Linked DNA regions of Homo sapiens. The protein of the gene in region 2 purifies or fractionates together with the protein of the main gene of each other region. This does not show direct contact. Each region holds a gene or a part of one and is shown on either strand. Other genes may lie near its edges. The genes, in order: POTEF, ANTXR1, PCYOX1, CNTNAP3, DNAJC12, LRP11 and DMXL2.

What was found.
Region 1: the proteins of ANTXR1 (region 2) and POTEF purify together in Homo sapiens (affinity purification with mass spectrometry; 3 studies listed by BioGRID and IntAct, with this or other methods). This does not show direct contact.
Region 3: the proteins of ANTXR1 (region 2) and PCYOX1 purify together in Homo sapiens (affinity purification with mass spectrometry; 3 studies listed by BioGRID and IntAct, with this or other methods). This does not show direct contact.
Region 4: the proteins of ANTXR1 (region 2) and CNTNAP3 purify together in Homo sapiens (affinity purification with mass spectrometry; 2 studies listed by BioGRID and IntAct, with this or other methods). This does not show direct contact.
Region 5: the proteins of ANTXR1 (region 2) and DNAJC12 purify together in Homo sapiens (affinity purification with mass spectrometry; 3 studies listed by BioGRID and IntAct, with this or other methods). This does not show direct contact.
Region 6: the proteins of ANTXR1 (region 2) and LRP11 purify together in Homo sapiens (affinity purification with mass spectrometry; 2 studies listed by BioGRID and IntAct, with this or other methods). This does not show direct contact.
Region 7: the proteins of ANTXR1 (region 2) and DMXL2 purify together in Homo sapiens (affinity purification with mass spectrometry; 3 studies listed by BioGRID and IntAct, with this or other methods). This does not show direct contact.

What each region holds. Positions count from the first base shown.
Region 1 is NC_000002.12:130,126,423-130,130,541, forward strand, and holds the start of POTEF (POTE ankyrin domain family member F), read right to left. Parts: upstream 2,801-4,119; 5' UTR 2,650-2,800; intron 1,443-2,649; 5' UTR 1,287-1,442; intron 1-1,286.
Region 2 is NC_000002.12:69,247,179-69,249,827, reverse strand, and holds the end of ANTXR1 (anthrax toxin receptor 1 isoform 1 precursor), read right to left. Parts: 3' UTR 501-2,649; downstream 1-500. UniProt on the Homo sapiens protein: Plays a role in cell attachment and migration. Interacts with extracellular matrix proteins and with the actin cytoskeleton and thereby plays an important role in normal extracellular matrix (ECM) homeostasis.
Region 3 is NC_000002.12:70,275,137-70,278,410, reverse strand, and holds part of PCYOX1 (prenylcysteine oxidase 1 precursor), read right to left. Parts: coding exon 3,241-3,274; intron 2,898-3,240; coding exon 2,745-2,897; intron 1,678-2,744; coding exon 1,019-1,677; 3' UTR 1-1,018. UniProt on the Homo sapiens protein: Prenylcysteine oxidase that cleaves the thioether bond of prenyl-L-cysteines, such as farnesylcysteine and geranylgeranylcysteine. Only active against free prenylcysteines and not prenylcysteine residues within prenylated proteins or peptides.
Region 4 is NC_000009.12:39,173,168-39,176,667, forward strand, and holds part of CNTNAP3 (contactin-associated protein-like 3 isoform 1 precursor), read right to left. Parts: intron 2,926-3,500; coding exon 2,782-2,925; intron 1-2,781.
Region 5 is NC_000010.11:67,828,189-67,831,688, forward strand, and holds part of DNAJC12 (dnaJ homolog subfamily C member 12), read right to left. Parts: intron 1-3,500. UniProt on the Homo sapiens protein: Probable co-chaperone that participates in the proper folding of biopterin-dependent aromatic amino acid hydroxylases, which include phenylalanine-4-hydroxylase (PAH), tyrosine 3-monooxygenase (TH) and peripheral and neuronal tryptophan hydroxylases (TPH1 and TPH2).
Region 6 is NC_000006.12:149,836,860-149,840,359, forward strand, and holds part of LRP11 (low-density lipoprotein receptor-related protein 11 isoform 1 precursor), read right to left. Parts: intron 605-3,500; coding exon 479-604; intron 1-478.
Region 7 is NC_000015.10:51,612,772-51,616,271, reverse strand, and holds part of DMXL2 (dmX-like protein 2), read left to right. Parts: intron 1-3,500. UniProt on the Homo sapiens protein: May serve as a scaffold protein for MADD and RAB3GA on synaptic vesicles. Plays a role in the brain as a key controller of neuronal and endocrine homeostatic processes.

The DNA.
Region 1 (4,119 bases), about 61 Mb from region 2:
TCCAAATATGTGAGAGAGATGAAATGGCTGTTTGCCACCAATATTTTTATGTGATGCTTCATTTTTTGATTCTCTGAATAACTACTTACAACGCATTAGCCCATTTATGCCAGAGGCTGCAATTTTTTGAATTTTTGCACGAGTGAAAAATCAAACCTTCTAATGACCTTGAGCAGTAGGATGTAATTAACTCCCTCATGCTTACCATTCCAATAATGGAACACTAGGCATAAGTGGTTTAACACAATCGTGAAAGCATAGCTATTCAAGTAACTAATTATACAACTGATTTTTTTCCTCATCCCTAAAACATAGTAAAGGACCAGTTATTTTAAAAATACAACACAGTGACAATTTTGGCTTGTTGTTTGTTAAGGCCATTGCTTGGCATAAAGAAAACAAAAAGAGGAGGAGAAACAAGAATAGAAACATGAAATAGAAGCAGCAGCAAAAGAAAATGAAGAGGAACAAGAAGATGAGAAGAATACACAGACTAGAATAAGCAAAAAGAACAGGTGCAGGAATTAGAAGGCCTATTATGACACCTTTTATCCCCTCCCCAATTCACAAAATTTGAAAAAGTCCAAGACCATCACAACAAAAAAGAAGGAAAAAATGGCCGGGAGTGGTGGCTCACGCCTATAATCCTAGCACTTTGGGAGGCCAAGGTGGGTGGATCATGAGGTCAGGTGATCTAGACCATCCTGGCTAACACTGTGAAACCCCATCTCTACTAAAAATACAAAAATAAAATTGGCTGGGCGTGGTGGCAGGCGCCTGTAGTCCCAGCTACTAGGGAGGCTGAGGCAGGAGGATGGTGTGAACCCAGGAAGCAGAGCTTGCAGTGAGCCGAGATCACACCACGGCACTCCAGCCTGGGCAAAAGAGCGAGACTCTGTCTCAAAAAAAAAAAAAAAAAAAAAAAAAAAGCCACACACACACACACACAGTCACCCCCTAAATTTTGTTAAGAATGAGACAATGCTGCCACTCATGCCTGGCTCAGAAGGAGGCCACCCTCCAGAGATTGCAAGAGAAGGGGGAGGACTCCTTTCCCTAAGTGCACCTCCACCACTGCCACCGAGGCCCATGGTACAGCACCAGCAGGTTCGTCCCCACCCCAGGTCGGACTGGGCCCTGCAGTGCTCCTACTCCCCCTTCCCAGTCCCCAGACTTTCTGCCACTACCACCACTAGCACCAATGCCAATACAATTGCTGTCGCCATCAATGCAGCAGCCCACCCTACAAGGTTCCTACCACCTTGCCCCCGCGGGCACCCTCCTACCACTCCTGTCGAGCTGCAGTCTCCGTGGCTGCCATCAGTCACACGAGGCGAGCTGCAGAGTCACGCCACATGCAGGCTCCAGCGTACCACAGGTGATTCCTTCTCCTCCTCCTCCAGCCTGGCTTGGAGCAGCTAGACGGGCAAAGCCAGAAAAGCCTAGAATGGGATGCAGGGAGTGGTAACGTTAGAGCCTCACCTTGTCATGCTGGCCACTGGGTGGCAGGGACCAGCTTCAGCTAAGGCACTCAGACCCACCCACCGAAGTCCAGCCTCTCTTTCTGGCAAAAGGTGGCCAGGAACTGGGGCGGGTGTGAGTGCCTATGCTGAAACCACCCCCATCCAGGTGCAACTGGCCAGAAATTGCTGGGCCCACCAGGGCTGCACTCCTTGGGGAGCAGGAGTAGGAGAAACTCAGACCCAGCCAGCCCTCCCCACTCAACTGCTGGTTCCCATTCCTGACACCTCCACCCACAGTGCCCTGTTCCCACAGTCCCCCGCGATGCCCACTAATCCCCACCCGGTAGTCCCAGGTGGTCTCCCCAACACAGAGCATGGGGTGTGGGCGGGAGGTGCAGGCCGGAGAACCGCAGTGGGTGTGGGGGCCCTGCCCTGCTCAAGATTGCACCAGGAGGAACTCTGGAGTCTGGAAAAGAGAAGAGTCACCCGAAGGAGCAAGGAGACCATGGCTGTTGCTGTCCCCACCACCTCTGCAGCCGACCAACACCACTGGCAGTATAGCCCCCATAGCAACCCTAACCTGACCCCTGCCGCCGGCAGTGTAGCCCCCGGACAGCACACCCACCACACCCTGTGCCAGTTGCAGGCAGTGTAACCCCAATACCCCCCCCAACCACCCCCTCCACAGGCAGTGTAGCACCCGATAGTGCCCACAACCTGACCCAGCCACAGGTGTTGCTGCACAAGACAATGCCTCAAAATCGCCGCCCCCACCCCACCACAGGTAGCGCAGCTCCTGATAGCGCACCCTGAGTAAGGGCAGTGCAGCACCCGACAACACTCCTAAACCACCCCCCGCTGCCAGCATTGTAGCTCCAAATAACCACCAAAACCACTCCCTGCCCCGGGCAGTGCAGCAGAAAATAGTGCCCCTAACCCCTCCCCCGCCACCGGCAGTACACGTTAGTGCACACAACCTGCCTCCCCCCCATCACCCCCGCCACCACGGGCAGTGTAGCCCCGGACAGCCAGCCAAAACCGCCCCCCTCCACCGCCAGCAATGCAACCTCGGAGAGTGCCCCCAACCAGCCCCCTGACACAGGCAGTGCAGCCTCGGGTAGTGAGCCCCAATAGGACACCCAACCCCTGCCCCCACAGGCGGGCAGTACATCCCCGGATAACTCACCTACACCAGGACATTTCTACCACTCTGGCCGAGCTGCAGTGTCCCACGTCACCACCAAACACAGCAAGGCGAGCCCCAGGGGCTCAGGCTCCAGCCTCCAGCATGCCGCTCCCTTCTACTCGTCTTCCTGCCTGGCAGGAGAAGCTCCCGCTACTGGTTGCCCTCCTACCACTGTCGACACCACCAACTGCAGTGAGCCAGTGTCCGAGGCTCCAGCCAGAAACAGGTAGCAGCCATGCCGGATACCAAACGCCCACACTTAAGAGCCTGAAATGACCTGACGCCACCTCCGCATGCTTTACCTACTGAGGTTACGCACATGTGGTTCCCAGACTACATGTTCTGATTGGATGAGAGAAAAACCTCTAGGCCTACTCTGATTGGACTTTATTTTCATGCTGTGATTGGTTGTCTTAAGACTGGCTCTCATCCAATCAGAACATGATAATAAAGTCCAATCCAAGTAACCCTGGAGGGTTTTTCTCATCCAATCAGAACATGCAGTCAGGAATCCTCCTGTATATAATCTCGGTATATGACTGCTGCTGAAGGGAAGTCAGGCTCTTCCACGTTCCCGTATTTTCCTGTGGAGCTGCTCAGTGCCCGGCTTAGAGGACCAGGAATGGGTAATCACCAGCCGTACGCTGGAGGCTGGAGCCGCTACACCGTGGCTCGCCTCGCTGCGACTGGTGGTAACCGCGACCGAGACGGCAGTGCGGCGGAAGCGGTAAGAGGAGGAAAAGAGTTTTGGGATAGATGGAGGGGGTAAAGAGGGTGGTTAGTGCCAAAGGGAAAAGAGGATAGTGAGCAGGAGAGCGCGTTGCAAAAAGGCGGTGGGGAAAAGATAGTGGGAAAAAAAGTTTTTGGGTAGATGGAGGGAGAAAAACGGGGTGGGGAGCGGGAGGGAGGGAAGGTTTTGCAGAAAGATGGTGGGTAAAATGTTTATGGGTAGATGGAGGAGGAAAAGAGGGTGGCAAGGGAGGAGGAAAGAGAGGGTGGTGGGGGGGAGAAACAGCGTTGAGCAGTAGGGAGAGAAGGTTTTGTGAAAAGACAGTGGGGAGAAAAGGTTTTGGGTAGATAGAGGGGGAAAAGAGGGTAACAGGTGGGGGAAGGGAAAAGGGTAGCCAGCGGGAGGAAGACAAGGTTTTGCAAAAAGATAGTGGGCAGGAAAGAAAGACGGTGGAGAAAGAAAAGACAGTGGGTAAAAAGTGTTTGGGTAGATGGTGGGGGGAAAGAGGGTAACGAGGAGGAGGAAAGAGGGTGACGAGAGGGAGCAGGGAAAGAGAGTTGGGAAAAAAATGGGAAAATAGTTTGGGGTAGATGGAAGGCAAAAAAGAGAGTGGCAAGCAGGATAGGGCAAAGAAGAGGACGAGTGGGAAGGGGGGAAGACTGTGAAAAGACAGTAGGGAATATTCTGGGGGGTGGATGGAGGGGGAAAAGGGGAGGTGAGCAGGAGTGGGGAGAAGGCTT
Region 2 (2,649 bases):
TGAATTAAAACTGCTAGGAGGGATAAAGTGAGTTGTATCAGAAATGCAGAAGCAATACAAAGATTTTGAGATGTACATAGAAAGGTATTTATTGCAGCACTGTCCACAACACTGTCTGGTTCTTGGGTTGCTGCAAATCTCTGGACTCCTTGTAAAATCAATCCTAGTTGCCTTTCTGCTACGTTAGCCAAACACAATCCTAACTGATGCAGTATATTTTTCCTGTGTGTTCTGTTTTCACTTTTTACTTATTTTCTCTTAGCATGGATTACATTTTTAATTTGAAATTTGTTATGAGAAATAAAAAATATTTTGAATGTCTGACAGCTAAGGAAGAAATGACAGTAATCCAGACAGTAGAGAAATTAGTGGAAGGCATGAAATCATTTGAGAAATGTAATTTAATGTATAGCACAGCAACCACTGTATTATGATCAGGATATTGAGAACTTGAATACGTCGCACTTTATAACAAACAGACAAATAACCAGAAAAAAGAGTTGATTTAAGAAATTTATTATTTTTTTTAAAAAAGCAACTTCCAGGGTTGTCATTGTACAGGTTTTGCCCAGTCTCCTATAGCATGGTATTATGATCAGGATATTGAGGACTTGAATACGTTGCACTTTATAACAAACAGACAACCAGAAAAAAGAGTTGATTTAAGAAATTTATTATTTTTTTAAAAAAAGCAACTTCCAGGGTTGTCATTGTACAGGTTTTGCCCAGTCTCCTATAGCATGGTATAGTGATAACTGATTTTTTATAACAATGACTCAGAGGCATTGAAGATCCATAACTATCTTCTGAATTATCACAGAAAGAAGAAAGTTAGAAGAGTTTAATGTTAAGTGTATTAAAAATCATATTCTAATTCTTTTAATTTGGTTATCTGAGTATGATAATATAGGAGAGCTCAGATAACAAGAAAAGGCAATTGGTTAGAACACTCCATTCCCACAGGATGTGCATTAACAGACTTTTTACTGCATATGTCTTTATATAGTTTGCAAACTAATTCAACCATTTTACACAGCATTAATTTTTTTTTTAACTGGGTTGACATTGGGCTGAAACATTTGCTTATCATCTTATAATTATTTTTTCCTGTTCTTTAATGGATTTTACCCCCATCTGACATAGTGTTTGGACTTTAGTGTATGTGACACTTCAAGATCATCTCTGCCCATTCTGATGATAGTTACAATGAGGTTACCCATGGCCAGATATCGAAGACTATTAATTAATCCACCAGCTCTGTTCTCAACTTTGGTAAAAGAGAGATCTTGTGTCTCACTGGAGGGTGCACCAAGCTTCAGGCAAGAAACTGTGAGCTGGCTGTCAACAGAATATGGTTCTTATCAAGGTTCTTATTAATGCTGTGCAAACAAGGGTCTCGTCATTTCAGTAACTATTTGTACATTTATAAAAGCAATACAGTCATGGGAAAAACCAACAAGCACAGCTTGGTAGAATAACCTGCCATGAAATATCATCGGCTTTATAATAATTTACTACAACTGTTCTTTTTATTCACACTGGATAGGAAATGCTTCCATCTAACACATGGAATACGAATATATACAACACAAATTTGGCTTTAATAAAAAAAAAAACAGTTCAAAAGGACAATAACACGGGGGCTGAAAACAATAATTTTGTGCAGTTTCCTGATCATAATCACATGTCTCCTGCCTTTTACAGGGAATGACACAAGTATTGATGGATTTTGTAAACCAGTTAAAACATTTTCCTGCCTGTAATAGCCCACTATGAAGATATCACCTTGTTCATACAGTCTTATAGAAGTTTCTCCTTCTTAACTGTAATTCTAAATAACCGGGGATGACACACTGAGTCGGTTTAAGAACAAATCCTGCTGAGCCTTTTCAAAATCATCATACATTTGCAGTTCCCTATTCCATCAAAATGCTTTGCCGAAACAACATCTTGTAACTGCACTGGGCATATGACTGATGTGCTGAATGGTGCATTTGCACTGATGCTCACCATCTCGTTGCTCAGCAACGTCAGCATCTCGGCTTGAACTTCTGAATGGCCGCGGGAATCACGCGGCAGTGCCATGGGGTGGGTGGACTGTTTTAGACTGCCAGCAGTCAAAACAGTTGTGATGGGCTCAATGTCTCTACACTGTGAGCCTGGGGAACCCATTCTCCTATGGAATGGTTTTCAGGGGTCCAGCAATGTCACTGCAGGTGGCTGAGATATTCTGGCCCCTGCTTATGAGGAACTACATGAAAGAAGAAGCCTAGTGTTCTAAAAATTAGACAATGCGGCAGGGTTGGGGAGAGGCTGGGGGGTTGCTTTCATGAGTCTGGAAATTTCTGGTTTTAGCTCTCTGAGAAGGCTGGGAGACTCTGTTGTAGGCAGCTGTGGGAGAAGGCTAGGGTTGGAGGTACACCTGGAGATGTGTCAGTTTGGTGTTGGCACTGCAGATTCAGCGCCCGTGGTCCCTGACTAAGGCACTCTGCCTAGATCTATTTTCCCCTGACTGTACCTTTTATGCCCCCTGGCTTTCCCATTCTCCCTGGAAACTCCTGTTTGTTTTTGCTTTCTAAGATAGAGATAGCAAGTAGGGTTCATTTCTCTCATCTGACTGTTGGGTTCATCTGACTGTTGAGTGGCGGC
Region 3 (3,274 bases), 1.0 Mb from region 2:
GATACAGATTGGGCTTCTTAGGACTTCTAAGGCACTAAAACCCTTTGTAGGCATTTTCACACCCACATTGGTGATTCCCAACCCTGGGTGCACATTAGAAACTTTAAATAGCTACAATGCTAAGGTCCTATCCTCAGTCTTTGAATCTGAATCTCTGGTTATGGGGGGGTCTCAGTATTTTTAAAAGCTCCTGAAGTGAGGATTTAATACTAGAATGCCAGTTTCTTAATTCAGTAGCCCATATTTGCTTTTCATTTTACTTGAGATTTTTGTTTAACATCTTCAAGTTACATTACTAAGACTTCTAAATTTCACCCCTAATCAAATCAAGACAGAAGAATCAAAAGACAACATTCTGAAAGTCAAGGCTTTAGGCATGGGCACACGTACTTCAAACCGGTATGAAATTACTAAGAGTCAGGCATAAGACACCAGCTCCCATAAATTTTATCTGACTGAAGATTATATCTAGCTGTAAAATTCAAAAGGACTACTCCCCAACTAAGATGTCTTTAAGTTCTCCCTCAGGTACTCACCTTAAAATGCTCTACAATTTTGATCAAAATCCAGCGCGCCACTCCCAGACCTACTGAATCAGAATCTTCAAGAGAGGAGCTTGAGAATCCATATGGTTTAACAAACTCCAGGTGATTATTTTTATTTACTTTTGAGACGGAGTTTTGCTCGTGTTGCTCAGGCTGAAGTGCAATGGTGAGATTGGCTCACTGCAACCACCACCTCCTAACTCCAGGTGATTCTTATTATCAGACAAGTTTAAGAAAAACTCCTAATGGATAGTGAAAGAATACTTAAGAAATTTTGGAGATGGCATAAGTGCAATAGCTATACCTTCACACTTAATTAGAACCGTGTGTTTTCCTATGACCAGCAGGGATTACTTTTATTAAACAATGATAATGGCAAAATATCTGGTTCAAAATCATCTCTGCTCAGATTTTGTTCTTTTTTGCCACTGATAGTCATTTGGAACTAGGAGGGGAAAAAGGAGTGTGTCACTTCATAGTTCAGTTTTAAGTTTCTCATATAAGCCATCCTGATCAATCATGTCTGTGTGCCCGTTCCAGCGGTGATAGGCAAGGAGTGCAGCGTTGTGGGCTGCAATGGCACTCATCTCCATGGCACTTGCTGCACACTCTATGCCATTGAGGTAATAAAGTCGATCATGGAGAATGATAGAGGGGCATTTCTCCGGGGGCTTATAGTGAGGATATGCAAGCCATGGCTTCTTCACAGCATAATCATAGGACAGAAAGAGCTTTAAAATTTGTGCTTTAGTAAGAGTTTCTTGGGAAAAGATCTTCCAAACATATGTTCCATCTGTTGATGGCTCAGGATCTTCCTTTTCTCTCACAGAGGGCACAATCCCAATACTGTTAATGAACAAATCTGAATTATCAGTGGTTAAAACTGTATTAAGGCCAAATTTATCTATGGGTCTAGAGCTAAAGATAGATGTATTCAATTCCCCCTTAACTAAAGTTGTCACTATATGTTGATAATATTGATGGAATTCCTCAATTGGAGGATCAAAGTTGAGAAAAGTAATATTCGACATTTTTCGATTCAACGGAGTGGCCACCAAGACGATGTCATAGAAGTCTGAACGAGTCTCAGTTCCAATTTGGTAGACCACTTCATACATCTTTGTTGGATTTCCTAGAGGAAATAAGGAGGCATATATTTGTTTAGTGTTTCTAACATACCTTCTAAAAATAATTGTATACCTTCTTCATAATTTCTCTATAATTCTAAAGAATTGAAGAAGTTATATCCCTTAAGATAGTTGTCCCTTGCATTTTTATTACATTGAGGCCAATTTCTTATTCAGAATGTCAGTAAGTACAAAATACAGAATTTTTACTTTTGAAGGTAAGATTATCTTTCGGCCGGGCATGGTGGCTCACACCTGTAATCTCAGCACTTTGGGAGGCCGAGGTGGGTGGATCACGAGGTCAGGAGATCGAGACCATCCTGGCTAACATGGTGAAACCCCGTCTCTACTAAAAATACAAAAAATTAGCCGAGCGCGGTGGCAGGCGCCTATAGTCCCAGCTACTCGGGACGCTGAGGCAGGCGCCTATAGTCCCAGCTACTCGGGACGCTGAGGCAGGAGAATGGCGTGAACCCGGGAGGCGGAGCTTGCAGTGAGCCGAGATAGGCCACTACAGTCCGGCCTGGGCAAAAGAGCGAGACTCCATCTCAAAAAAAAAAAAGATTATTTTTCAAATCCAAGGAGTGATGCCACAGCACTTAACTACACTGGGGAATTTTTTTTTTTTTTTTTTTTTTTTAGATGGAGTCTCACTCCGTCACCCAGGCTAGAGTGCAGTGGTGTGATCTTGGCTCACTGCAACCTCTGCCCCCTGGGTTCATGTGATTCTCCTGCCTCAGCCTCCCGAGTAGCTGGGATTACAGGCACCTGCCACCACGCCCGGCTAATTTTTTGTATTTTTAGTAGAGACAGGGTTTAACTATGTTGGCCAGGCTAGTCTTGATCTCCTGACCTCAGGTGATCCACCCTCCTTGGCCTCCCAAAGTACAGGGATTACAGGCATGAGCCACCGTGCCTGGCCCATTGGGGAATATTTCTATATGGTACAATATATACAATTTCAAGTTTCATCATTTTAGAACTGAGTAAGAGATGACAGAAGAGAAGTGTTTCTCCCTGAGCAATCATTTTCTGCAGGGGATATCAGGAACAATAAGAAATTCAAGCTTACCTGTGTACTTGGTCTTTGTTTTCTCCTCGATGTACATTACTGAGCCAGATATAAGATTGCTTTTGGATGCCTGCAGAAGCCCTGAGCAAACAAGTTTATTGCCACCTTCTACTGCCCAAAGGCCAGAATCAGAACAGGACAGTGACACCGCCCCTGTCAATAGGAGGAAAAATGTGTTTTAATTCTGACTTTTTGTAAGAGGCTCTCTACCCACTCTCCCTTCCCAATTACATGTTCTACTCCAAATGTCTCTAGACATTGCTAAATGGCCCCTGGGAGCAAAATCTCCCCCAGTTAAGAATTACTGAACTAATGAAAGCTAAAGACCCTCTCCCCCTAAAAATGCACATCTACATACGCACAATTTTGCTAACAATGTCTGAGGTTCACAGAGAAAAGTAGCCTCCAATCCACAGCCTAAAGTCAGGAACCACCATAGCATCAGGTAAGCCCCTCTGTGAACTAATGTCCACCACTGTTTCAAGCCCTGGCTTACCCACAAAGGCATTGATGTCCGTGCTTTGGCCATA
Region 4 (3,500 bases), on a different chromosome or scaffold from region 2:
TCAATCAGAACATTTCTTCTTGACTGTTTTTGTAATTCTGCCAAATGGGAAACAGTTTTCATGACAAGAAAACATTTGCAGAAGAAAATTTAAAAAAGAAAACATTTGCTGTAACAAACTAAATACCAAAAGCTTACAAGTAATTGGCACTGATCCATAGTACACATGTAATCACTGGACTATTACATATTTTTTATCTTTTTATCAGCTGTATATTTCTTGACCTCATCATTTAGGTGGGTAGCTGCCTGCTACAACAGAGAGGCAGGGCTTCTTGCCACAGAGGAGTGCTTGTTAGTTGACTGAATGAATTCTGGCAACTGATTTTCCCAACAAAATACATTTTTAAATGTTTTCCTTTTATATATTGGAACAACTATTTTCCTGTTTTTATACAGAACACATAGAATTGTAGTAATTCTTAAAATGGAATTCCCATAATTAACATTATATATCCATATGCACAATTTGGAATGAATTGTCTTTTTGTTTTTGTGTGAAACTTACACATTTTAATAACCTCATTCAATGTAATTAGTAAATAGTTTTCTTGAGGATGATATCCAGAACCCAGAGATACCAGCTTAATTGTGGTTCTCCTTATTGGCTATACTCAATAATTCCATCAGTGAACCCATCAGTAATTCAGAATAACATGGAATGTATATGAAAACCTGTGTCTGTTGTCCTCAAATAGTCTTGTCTCTTTGTGTCATAAGGCCCAACTCACTCTTCCTCACTTCAATGACAGTGTCTTTGTAAATAGCCCCATAGAAGTTAGGGTGAGGAGGAGGGATTCTTCTGAACACCAAGGACTGGCAGATAAAAGGTAGCTTAATATTCAGAACGTGTTAGGTCAGGCTTCTTGACACGGATGCCCATTGGCCAAACCCATCTTTGTATCTGTATCTGAGTAACGCATCTCCAACAAAGCCAACTTCAATAACCAGGTCTTTTTTCTTTTTCCTGTTGAGCAGCACTTAAATGTCAGTTTCTCCATGGACAGAAACTTTAGGTAGAGGGCTGTTCCATTTATCTCCTTCCTCTTTTCATTTCTTTTTCATCTTGTCAAAGGAAACTGCACTCTGTGGAGCCTTGTTATCACTCTTCCCTTTGGTGTTTCCTTTTTCATGTATCTTGATGGTATTTTTCATTTTTATGATCTCAGCAGGGTGCTGTTCATAGTAAAACTTAGACTTCAAACCCATCTTTTTTTTTTTTTTTCTCCTTTACCTTCTTGGAAAGTTCATGGGCTTCACAGCTGTTTTTCCCTTTTTCTCATGCTAACCTAAGTGATGTATTCATTGTGTGGTCTGGTGACACACAGTCAGAGATATTTTCAGGTTTTGGTCCTGCAACCCATGAGCCAACTCCTCCAGCACATAACAGGAAAGAAAACATGTTCCCAACAATACAAATAAATATTCCCATGATGTGCTGCTGAGATACACTGACAACTAAACATGAGCTTTCCCTTTAACCCCAACTTGGATATTTCAAACTTTAAACATTGAAAGAAGTTTATTAACTGATTTGGAAGTATTTCCAGTTGATTAGGGAATAGATCATTAGGGATTGCCATTGCAAAATGATTGGTCTCCTGTGGATAACAACACCAAAAACACGTGAGACATATGAATTCTGATTTCCATGTAAAAATAGAAAGTTATTTTATTTCATATAAAAATGAAACAACGATGTCCCATGAGGCATATTTACTTTATAACTTTTTATGCATAATAAAAATTACTATATTAGGCTGGGTCAAGGTGGCTCGTGCCTGTAATCCTAGCATTTTGGGAGGCCGAGGCAAGTGTATCGTCTGAGGTCAGGAGTTTGAGACCAGCCTGGCCAATGTGGCAAAACCCTGTCTGTACTAAAAAAAATTAGCCGGGTGTGGTGGCACACACCTGTAGTCCCAGCTACTCGGAAGGCTGAGGCAGGAGAATGGCTTGAACCCAGGAGGCGGAGGTTGCAGTGAGCCAAGACTGTACCGCTGCACTCCAGCCTGGGCAACAGAGCAAGACTGCATCTCAAAACAAAAACAAAAACAAAAACAAAAAAAGTGCGCCTGTGGTCCTAGCACTTTGGGAGGCCGAGGTGGGCAGATCACGAGGTTGGGAGATCGAGACCATCCTGGCTAACATGGTGAAACCCCGTCTCTACCAAAAATATAAAAAATTAGCCGGGCATGGTGGTGGGAACCTGTAGTCCCAGGTACTCGGGAGGCTGAGGCGGGAGAATGGCGTGAACCCAGGAGGCAGAGCTTCACTGCACTCCAGTCTGGGCGACAGAGTGAGACTCCGTCTCAAAAAAAAAAAAAAAAAAATTGGCCCAGGCCCAGTGGCTCACACCTGTAATCCCAGCACTTTGGGAGGCCGAGGCAGGCAGATCACCTGAGGTCAGGAATTCGAGACTAGCCTGGCCAACATGGCGAAACCCCGTCTCTACTAAAAGTACAAAAATTAGCTGGGCATGGTGGCGGGCGCCTGTAATCCCAGCTACTCAGGAGGCTGAGGCAGGAGAATTGCTTGAACCTGGGAGGCGTAAGCTGCAGTGAGCTGAGATTGCGCCGCTGCACTCCAACCTGGGAGACAAGAGGGAGACTCTGTCTTAAAAATAAATAAATAAATAAAACTAAATTACTATATTACATGGGCAGCTGTTAAAGTAAGAACTGATTCTTAAAATATTAGATGAAATGGAGACTTCACATGAATAATTTTTAAATGCAAAAAATAAAATGTCCTTTTTTCTTTCCTTCCCATTAGGCTTCCTTACCATCATGAGGATCTGTGGTTTGTGTTTCTTGGCTAATTCGGTAACATCCACTCCATTATAATAAAGATTTTCTAAACACCCATGAAAGCTTTTACGTCTGAATGCCCGCGATCTTCCGGGTGTCGGAATTCCCCCAAAGCTGATCTTAGAAAGAAAAATGACATAAATAACATTGTTTAGTGATTTTCTGATGGTACGTGTTTAAAGCATTTATAATTAATAGGTCTAGTACTAACTGTCACAAATCCATTCCCATTATCTTATATTTGCATGCTTGCTTATTCCAAATGAAGTGTTCTATCATAATGACAGCTGTTAATACCTTTATTTCTGGCACCACACAGTTTTGAACAAACTTAAAAGGAAGAAGTCAACACACATTTTCTGCCACATTGAAATTTTCAGCCATGTAGTAAATTTACCCTTTGTGGGTCATATGATCTCTTTTGCAGCACTCAACTCTGACACGAAGTACCAATGTGGCCACGGACAATACATAAAGAAAGAGAACATGTTCCAATAAAACCTTCTCTTTTGAACAAAAACAGGCTTTGTATTTTTTTAATTAAAAAATGTCCAAACTTGGCCTGATGCCCATAGTTTGCCAACCTCTGCATTAGATATTATCTTTTGCTATTACATGGTTAAATTAAAGTAATAAAACTGAATAATCCGGTATAGGACTAGGATCTTCAGTTTAATATTATATGCCAAAGCCA
Region 5 (3,500 bases), on a different chromosome or scaffold from region 2:
AGAAATTAACATTCATGCTCTGCTGGCGAGGATGTAAATAGGTATAGACTTTCTTGAAAAAAATTGAGACATATATGTTTGTATGTGTGTGTATATATATGTGTGTGTATCTATCTCTCTATATATAGATATATGTGTGTATCTATCTCTCTATATGTAGATCAGCTCCATGTCATCCTTAGTCAATTCTCATAAGGAATGTCTTCACTTTTACAATCAAAGTCAGGCTGTATTAGATAGGCATATGTATAAAACCCAGACTAATAACTATTATTTTCTTTGTTAAACTTCTGAGAACACCTTCGAATAATAGGAAAAGATGACTTCCTGTTAGGAACTGTAATTAACTATGTGTTTCCTCTTCCTGGGTGCTGTCTTTAACCATCAGTCACCATAACCTGCTTATATAACAAATAAAACTGAGATCTAGACTTGTTTTTAAATTTTAAAGTGTTAAATATTCTATTTTCTCTCTCTCTCTCTCTCTATATATATATATATACACACATATATATGAAGAGCCTTTAATTTATTTCCTAGCCTTTGATTCAACAATTCCAATTCTAGGAATTTGTCTAAGGAGATAATCAGAGGTAAGAAAAGAATAGCTGTAAGAAGGTCCAAGAATAAAATATAAATTTTAAACAAAAACCTATGATAGAGCAAGAGCACCATCAACTCAGACAGACATCGCCACTTTAAATTCCAGTTCCCTTTCTAGTCTCATGCATTTCAAGGAAATCACTTCTGTTCGAACTACAAGCAGCCAGAAAGAGCAGACAGTAAAACACAAATAAGACAGCTCGGGCGCAGAGGGAGGTGGGGGGAAAGTCTCTGGAGCAACTGCCAAACTTCACCCTCACAAAATGGGCCCCAGTAAAACAGTGAGCCTTACTTAATAAGCACATTCCTTTCCCTTCAGGTGTACCAAGATAGGGAAGCAAAAAGCAGACTCGGGCGGGGTATGCCTACAGCTGCAGAAAGATGGATGGGAACAGACACACAACTCTCCCTCCCAGAAAAGCACAACAAAGAGACAGAGAAGCAGTCCAAGCCTCTGATAAACTCTCCCACCCTGAAGCCTTAGAAACTCTTAGTCTGTAGGAGAGTGTGTCTCTAACCTAACTCAGCCAGCCGCCCCTCTCAGGTTTATTCAAAATAAACCTGTCAGGCCGGGTGCGGTGGCTCACGCTTGTAATCCCAGCACTTGGGGAGGCCGAGGCGGGTGGATCACGAGGTCAAGAGATCGAGACCATCCTGGCTAAAACAGTGAAACCCTGTCTCTACTAAAAATACAAAAAAATTAGCCGGGCGTGGTGGCGGCCGCCTGTAGTTCCAGCTACTCCGGAGGCTGAGGAAGGAGAATGGCGTGAATCTGGGAGGCGGAGCTTGCAGTGAGCCGAGATTGCGCCACTGTACTCCAGCCTGGGCGACAGAGTGAGACTCCGTCTCAAAAAAATAAAAAATAAAAAATAAAAATAAATAAACAAATCTGTCCCTGTTGACTGTCAAGCCGCCCTTTGTGTTTCTCTCCTCTTTCTTTAATTCTTACAACCTATATGTCCAATAATAGGATGTTTGTTATAGTTGATTGTAATGTAACTGTAGGTTAGAATACTTTACTCATTTAAAAAATTATCTTGTCATAAAAGATTTTTAACAACCTGAGAAAATTTAAATATTTCTATGAGAAAAGGTAAGATATGTGCAATATATTATGTTATACTGCATATAATAATATGTAAGTATTATGTGCAATTTAAATCCATGTCTTATCTCAAAAGGGATTATGTAACTATATATGTATATAATAATGATAATTATTATCATTTTAAATTTATTGACCTGGGTGCAGTGGCTCACACCTGTAATCCCAGCACTTTGGGATGCTGAGGCGGGCAGATCACCTGAGGTCAGGAGTTCAAGAACAGCCTGGCCAATTGCCAAATGGCAAAACCCTGTCTCTACTAAAAATTAAAAAATTAGCCTGGCATGGCCTGTAGTCCCAGCTACTTGGGAGGCTGAGACACAAGAATCGCTTGAGCCTGGGAGGCGGAGGTTGCAGTGAGCTGAGATCGCGCCACTGCACTCCAGCCTGAGTGACAGAGCAAGACTCCGTCTCAAAAAATAAATAAATAGGCCGGGCGCTGTGGCTCACTCTTGTAATCCCAGCACTTTGGGAGGCTGAGGCGGGCGGATCACGAGGTCAGGAGATTGAGACCATCCTGGCTAACACAGTGAAACCCCGTCTCTACTAAAAATATAAAAAATTAGCTGGGCGTGGTGGCAGGCGCCTGTAATCACAGCTATTCAGGAGGCTGAGGCAGAAGAACGGCGTGAACCCGGGAGGCGGAGCTTGCAGTGAGCTGAGATCCCGCCACTGCACTCCAGCCTGGGCGACAGAGCAAGACTCCGTCTCAAAAAATAAATAAATAAATAAATAAATAAATAAATAAATAAATAAATAAATTTTTTGATACTTAATATGTGCCAGGCACTTTTCTAAGCACTTTACATAGAATGTTTCATTTAATTCCCACAACTGTATGAGGTTAATACTATCATTATTCTCATTTTGCAGATTAGGAAATCAAGACATAGAAAAATTAAGGAATTCTCCCAAGGTCACACAGCTAATAAGTAGCACATCTAGGAACTGAACCCATGCAGTCTGACTCCAAATACATACAAAAATACACATATAAATACATACACATAGGCCAGGTGTGGTGGCTCACGCCTGTAATCCCAGCACTTTGGGAGGCCAAGGTGGGCGGATCACGAGGTCAGGAATTGGAGACCAGGCTGACCAACATGGTGAAACCTCATCTCTACTAAAGATACAAAAAATTAGCCGGGTGTGGTAGCACGTGCCTGTAGTCCCAGCTACTTGGGAGGCTGAGACACAAGAATCGCTTAAGCCTGGGAGGCAGAGGTTGCAGTGAGCTGAGATCGCACCATTGCACTCCAGTCTGGGCCACAGGGTGAGAATCTGTCTCAAAAATACATACATACGTACATACATATACACATATGCATTTACTTATTTATATACATATACAGATATAGCATATATGCACAGATAATTAACATGTATAAGTCATACTCCAAAATGTTAAACATGTAGGTTAACATTTTTATTTGTGCTTTCTTTGTATTCCACATTTCCTTATTGAACATATATTAATTTTAGAACTTAAATTTTAAAACTTAGAAACTTATCTTTTCCATATTCTGCTAGCAAAATATTTTTGTCTAAGCAAGGAAATACTCCAGTGTGCCATGGAGACTAATCCAATTCCCACTTGGATGAATATTCTCCAAGATTTCCTAGCCATACAAATGCCCTGTCTCTCCCACAGTGCATTAAAATTATGGCCATCTAGTAAGGCCATTTCAAGCCCCATCTCTTTCTGAAGTCTATTCAGATATTCTTTCTTTAATTTCTGCTGCACTTATAGACAGTACAGAGCACAATACTTAATTGTTCTCAAATTGTT
Region 6 (3,500 bases), on a different chromosome or scaffold from region 2:
CGTAAACTTAAGGTTTTGAGACTCTTCGTCCTTCCTCAAATCCATACTTCATTACATTTTCTTCAGTTTTTCTTCTTTCTTACAGGGTGTTTCTATGTGTATGATATTATAAGACTGATTTACAGCTCTGACTTAGCCACACCCTGGTGTATCGCAAATTTTCTTTAAAAAATTATCAAAACAAAGCATCAAATCACTGCAGTTTTTAAGAAAGCACATGACATGCAGCATTTTTAGGATAGAAAGAACCTGGAAAATTGAAAAAAATTAAAAACATAAGCAATACTAAAAATTTGACATTTGAGACTTAGACTAGAGACATATTGAATTCTCATTTAAGGCATAGCTTTTACATGTAAAGTTATAACTAAAATCAAGCAGGGGAAGGACACTGTGTTTGCATTTCATTCTCAGAACACAGACCTCCCAACTCCATCCCTTCCAGCCACTGCCTAGCAATGTGACATAGCCAACTCACGATTCTGGCAGAAGTCTTCATCAGACCCATCAGGACACTGCTGCACTCCATCGCAGGCGAGCGTGATGTCAATGCAGCAGCCATCGTCACAGAAGAAGTGGTAGCGTGAGCAAGTGTGCAAACATCCTATTTGTAAACAAATCTCAAGTCACACGAGTGCAGAAGTTCAGACTCTCAAGATGGGGATGACAAAGGGGAGTCCGTGGGGATGATAAAATGCACTTCGGGGAAGAGATGCAAATAATGAGGCAAACCTAACAATTCCAGCAACAGGTTCTGGAGAGGTTGGAGGGCTCTTTTTGAGCCTCCCGACTTAATTCTTCAGACTCCTCAGGGGCTCTTGGTCTGAGGGCTGTTCTCCATGCTTGCCTTGCCAGGAGGTGGCACACAGAAGCAACAGCCCAGGTCTCTCTCCACCCTTGATTCCCCGCCTCAGCTGTCTCCCTCTTCATTCATTCATTCATAGAAACCATTGTTGGAACCTCTTCTTCTGGCTGTCGATTGCTCTGCAGGAGGGCACCTAATACCATCCCATCCCCTGGATGGCAGTTGGCTATGTTTTAACAGAGATACCATTTATTTATTTATTTACTTACTTAAGACAAGGTCTCACTCTGTCGCCCAGGCTGAAGTGCAGTGGCACAATCTTGGCTCACTGCAACCTCCGCCTCCCGGGTTCAAGAGATTCTCTTGCCTCAGCCTCTGGAGTAGCTGGGACTACAGACATGCACCACCACACCCGGTTAATTTTTGTGTTTTTTGGTAGAGATGGGATTTCACCTTGTTGGCCAGGCTGGTCTCGAACTCCTGACCTCAACTGATCCACCTGCCTCGGCCTCCCAAAGTGCTGGGATTACAGGTGTTAGCCACCGTGCCTGGCCCAGAGGTACTATTTTACATATGCTATGTCTTACATTCTTGTCTCCTAAGTAATACTTTTCACTGAGATTAAGTTTTTACTATTGAATCCTATTTGTTGATTATCATAACGTCCCTGGTACTGTAGAGAATAAACAAAATTTAGTTATGGGCTGGCATGAATTTAGTTTCATGAAATAATGACATTGGCCAGGCGTGGTGGCTCACACCTGTAATCCCAGCACTTTGGGAAGCTAAGGCGGGTGGATCACAAGGTCAGGAGATCGAGACCATCCTGGCTAACACGGTGAAACCCCGTCTCTACTAAAAATACAAAAAATTAGCCGGGCTTGGTGGCATGCACCTGTAGTCCCAGGTACTCGGGAGGCTGAGACAGGAGAATCACTTGAGTCTGGGAGGCAGAGGTTGCAGTGAGCCAAGATTGTGACACTGCACTCCAGCCTGGGCGACAGAGGGAGACTCTGTCTCAAAAAAAAAAAAAAAGAAAGAAATAACGACATTTCTCCCTTCTGGAGTTCTTAGGAGCTTTTAATTTGCAGTGCAATTCATAGGAGCTACAAATATTTTCCTGAAATGCATTTTCCCTCTCCCTTGATTAAGCCAACTTTATTAGACTTAGCTAGAGGAGAACCGGGTGACTATCTGGTACTGGCAACATGGACTAAGGCACAAGGCTAGAAGCAGGTCACAGGAGCTCCACGGTTTTACAGGGACAGAGTGGACTAGACAATTCTCTCAGGAACATGGGGAAGTGGCAGATTATATGATATTCCTTCAAAACCAAATGGCTGAGCACAGTTCACAAACCCAAGTGAAATCTTGGACATACACTTGGTTTTTTTTTGTTTTTTTTTTTTTTGTAGATACAGGGTGTCACTATGTTGCCCAGGCTGGTCTTGAACTACTGGACTCAAGCAATCCTCCTGCCTCAGCCTCCCAAAGTGCTGAGATTACAGGTGTAAGCCACTGCGCCCGGCCTTGGACACATCTTTTATTGAAACGTGGTTAAATCAAGAGGTTGGAAAAGGAGTCTATCTTGGTGTGAGGCAATTTGAAGATATATTGATCCAGGAGGAAGAGAAGTTAAAGAAAATAAATGGTGATAGAAGCTCCTGCGGAAGAAGAGGAAGCAAAGAGCCTGCAGTTATGACTGAGAACATGGGCCTGAAGGAGAGTCAGCTCCGGCCACTGGGAAGAAGCAGGGAGCGGAGGTGGGGGACACGCTGGATATCAAGCAGGATACAGTTCCTCGTCAGGTTTCTTAAATTCATGGCATGAAAATCCCAGATATCTCAAGGTTTTATTTATTCTTTGGTGATTTTGGAGATGGATCCATATTTGTAAATTTTCTATCTATTTTTGGATTAGCAGCCTCCAAACTTTTTTGATCATGCATCCTGATCAATAATATATTGTTGAACAGGCATCTCCAGTTTATTTATTTATCTATTTATTTGAGACGGAGTCTCGCTGTGTCGCCCAGGCTGGAGTGCGGTGGCACAATCTCAGCTCACTGCAGCCTCCAGCTCCCAGGCTCAACTGACTCTCATGTCTCAGCCTCCTGAGTAGCTGGGATTACAGGCGTGTCCCACCACATCCGGCTAGTCCGGTTTATTTATAAATAATACGTGCATACTACTGTACTAACATGGGGTGTATCTTATAAAATATACTCAAATTTTAAGGAAAAAAATTAAAAATCAGCAAAAATATAAACTCTGCTGTCTTCTTTCTCACCCTAAAAATGTCTTGAACAACTCAGGGGCATCCTGTTTGGAGACTGCTGAGTTAGATCATGTTGGAAGAGCTTGCTGGCTTGCTGTTTGATCATTTTTCTAAGCATGAAAAATGTTCAAAATGTCAACTTATTAAAAATTGAACCAAGTTATGATCATATAAGCAGGGTACCTGCTCATCTGTCTACCTCAGCTAGTGTCACCCTTGGTTACCATAACATCTGGGTCATTCATTGCAAGACCAATACATACAATGCAGGGGAGGGAAACACTTGTCTCTTCTACCTCTATTTTCCAATGTCTCTCTGTGGTGTTTTATTAACTTTAATTCATAGCATGTTATTCCAATATAACCACTAAGTGATTCTAGACAGCAGTTAGTACTTCACCAATTCCTTTTTATTTTC
Region 7 (3,500 bases), on a different chromosome or scaffold from region 2:
TGAACACCTAAAAAATGTAATGGTTATCATTTATCTCTTTCAGATACAGAAAACAGAGTTAGGCCCCTCTAAATAATATACATGGTAATTTGGTGGGAGTGATTTTAGGGGAATAAATAATACCCTCTTAGATGGATTATCATTGGAGAGATGTTCCTTTAGGTCCACTGTCTTCTAAAAACTGAGCCTTGGGAGTAATAACATTTAATTTAATTCATACTAAATAATTGTTGTTTTCTTCCTGTGATTTTAGGAGAAACCCATTGGTTCGTACTAAATCAGTAGTGTTTTCTTCTTGTGATCTAAGGAGAAACTCAAAAAGTCGTAAGTGTGTTTTGCAAGTAAGCATAGATGGACACAAAAAACTCATAAACATTCTGGCTTAGACTCATTTCACAGATATATGTAGCTCATCCGTTAGCTGTAGTTCAAAAACAAAATTCCATACATTTTCTTAGGAGTAATGATTTTGGTTTTGTGCTAGCAACTTCTTCATATCATCTCTGGCCTTGACTGCATCCACACTTAAGAGGATCTAATCAGCAGGAGGTAATCATATTATCATCATGTACCTTTCCCATAATAACTCCCATCATTCCTTTTATGTGGATGAATAACCAATGTTTTCAGCAAAGGCCACTTCCTCCATTTAGGTTCTAAATTGGGTGTGATTTTGTCCACCAGGAGACATTTGGCAGTGTCTGGAGACATTTTTGATTGCTGTGACTGGAGGTGGGGAATTGGTACTGCCAACTAGTGAGGAGAGGCCAGAGATTTAGATAAAACGTCCTACAGTGCACGGGATAGTCCTCCACAATGAAGAGTTACCAAGCCCAAAATGTCAGTAGTACTGAAGTTGTGACAAACCCTGATTTGTACCTTACGGTTTGCATCTCTCTTTCCTACTCAAGTGCATGATTCTAGCAGTTTCTCCCTTCTCTCATAAAAATGCTTTTTCTGCTCTATTGAAACACTGTCTTCATTTAGCCTTCTTAGTTTTCTCCTACCATGCTTAATTGCTTCTTCTCAGCCTGATTCCAGATTTGTATACTCAGCTGTTTCTTTGACATCTCCTCCTTGAAGGTCTAATAGCTATCACAAAGACCTCATAACATTTTCCTCTTCCAGTCTTCCCTAAATCAATAAATAGCAACTCCACTTTTCTTTACTTTCCTTGTAATCTACCTTTTCTCTTCCATTTATGTCCCGTATCTAATGTTAGCAAATTCTAATGGTTATACCTTCAAAATGCGTCCAGAATCTGATTACTTCTTATCTCTACTGCTGCCACCTTGGTGCAAGACAGCATCATTTTTTTCCCCTGGATAATGGCAGTTGAATCTTAAATGGTCTTCCTGCCTTTTCTGACTCTAGCCTATCCTCCTTCAGTTTATTTTCAACATAGTAGCTAGAATGCTCCTGTTAAAATACAAATAAAATCTTGTTAGCCCCTTATTCCAGACTTTCACGTGGCTTTTTTTTCCACTCAGAATAAAAACCTGAGTGCCTGCAATGCCCTCTATTGCTATTTCTTTAGCACCTAAAACAGAAGGTGGTACAAAAAAGTACTCAATAAATTAGTAAATGGAAAGGATACTTAGTGTAATACACACATAGTAAAAACAGTGATCTTTTCATAAGGCTATTTTTTTATAATACTTCTTGGTATAGGTCAGTGGCATTAAGTCATATTTAGAAAAATCAATTTTATACGATGAAGGCAGAGAGCTTTGATATAATATAGGTGTAAAGCTGTGCTGCCCTGGTTTACTCCAAGGATATATATTAATGTATCAGGAGGAATTGACAGGTGGTTCTCAAATTTTCCTCAGTGGTGCTTTTGAAAGACTTAAGTATATAATGAATTAGAGATTAGCCTGACAAATACCTGGAGTGTAGAGATTCTGTACTTTAGGAGTTTAATATGTTGTATTAATTTGCTGGGGCTGCCATAACAAAATAATACAGACTGGGTAGCTTAAACAACAGATTTTTTTTCCTCACAGTTCTGGAGTTTGGAAGTCCAAGATCTATGTGTCAGCAGATTTGGTTTATCTGGAGGACTTTCTCCTTGTCTTGTACATTGCCCCCTTCTTGTTATTTCCTCATATGGCTTTTCCTTTGTGTACATGCACTTGCGGTGTCTTTTTCTCTTCTTAGGGACGCTAGTCTTATAGGGCCCCACCCTTAAGATCTCATTTAACCTTATATTACCTCTTGAAAGGCCTTACCTCCAAACACAGTCACGTTGGTAGTTAGAGTTTCAAGCTATGAATTTTGGGGTTACACAATATAGTCCACAACACATGTTAACAATCAGCTGAGCTGGTCCTGGAATTGAAAATTGAGGAGCCTAGCAAAGACATGATTGAGGTGGCCACCCTACTTGGTGGTAATCTCAGCTCAACCAAAGGAGTACTCTTGGATAGAAGCAAGATTCTGTTAAAGAAATTTTAAGAATATGCTAATATGTGGACAAATGGAAAATTCAAACATGACTGTGATAATTTTATGCTGGACAAATTTTATATAGACATAATTACAAGCACAGTTTGGCCATTAGAAGCAAAAAGCAAATAAAAACCCCAAAGAATTCAGATTTTTTTGGTTTAAAAAATTAATATAATATCTGCATTGTAAAAAAGTTATAATTCCAACAGTGTTGAAATATAGAAAGTAAAACTGAAAGTTTCCAGTTCCCAGAAGAATTCGTATAACTTACTGGTTATCCTTTATTCAAAAAATATTTTGGCACCTAGACATTGTGCATACAGGATAAACTAGCTATTGAAGTGTACTGTTGTATAAGAGGACTTGGTGTATGTTGTTATGTTGCAGGAAGTCAAGGACCCTAAACGGAGGGACAGGCTGAAGCTATGGCAGAAGAACATAAATTGTGAAGATTTCATGGACATTTATTAGTTCCCCAAATTAATACTTTCATAATTTCTTACACCTGTCTTTACTGCAGTCTCTGAACATAAATTGTGAAGATTTCATGGACATTTATCACTTCCCCAGTCAATACTCTTATGATTTCCTATGCCTGTCTTTACTTTAATCTCTTAATCCCGTCATCTTCGTAAGCTGAGGATGAATGTCTCCTCAGGACCCTGTGATGATTGCATTAACTGCACAAATTGTTTAAACAATATGAAATCTGGGCACCTTGAAAAAAGAACAGGATAACAGCAATGTTCAGGGAACAAGGGAGATAACCTTAAAGTCTGGCTGCCTGTGGGCTGGGTGGAACAGAGCCATATTTCTCTACTTTCAAAAGCAAATAGGAGAAATATCGCTGAATTCTTTTTCTCAGCAAGGAACATCCCTGAGAAAGAGAAGGCGTCCCTAAGGGGAGGCCTCTAAAATGGCTGCTTTGGGGCTGGCTGTCTTTTACGGTCATAGATGGGGGATGAAATAAGCCCTGGTCTCCCTTAGTGCTCCCAGGCTTATTAGGATGAGGAAATTCCCACCTAATAAATATTGGTCAGACTGGTTGT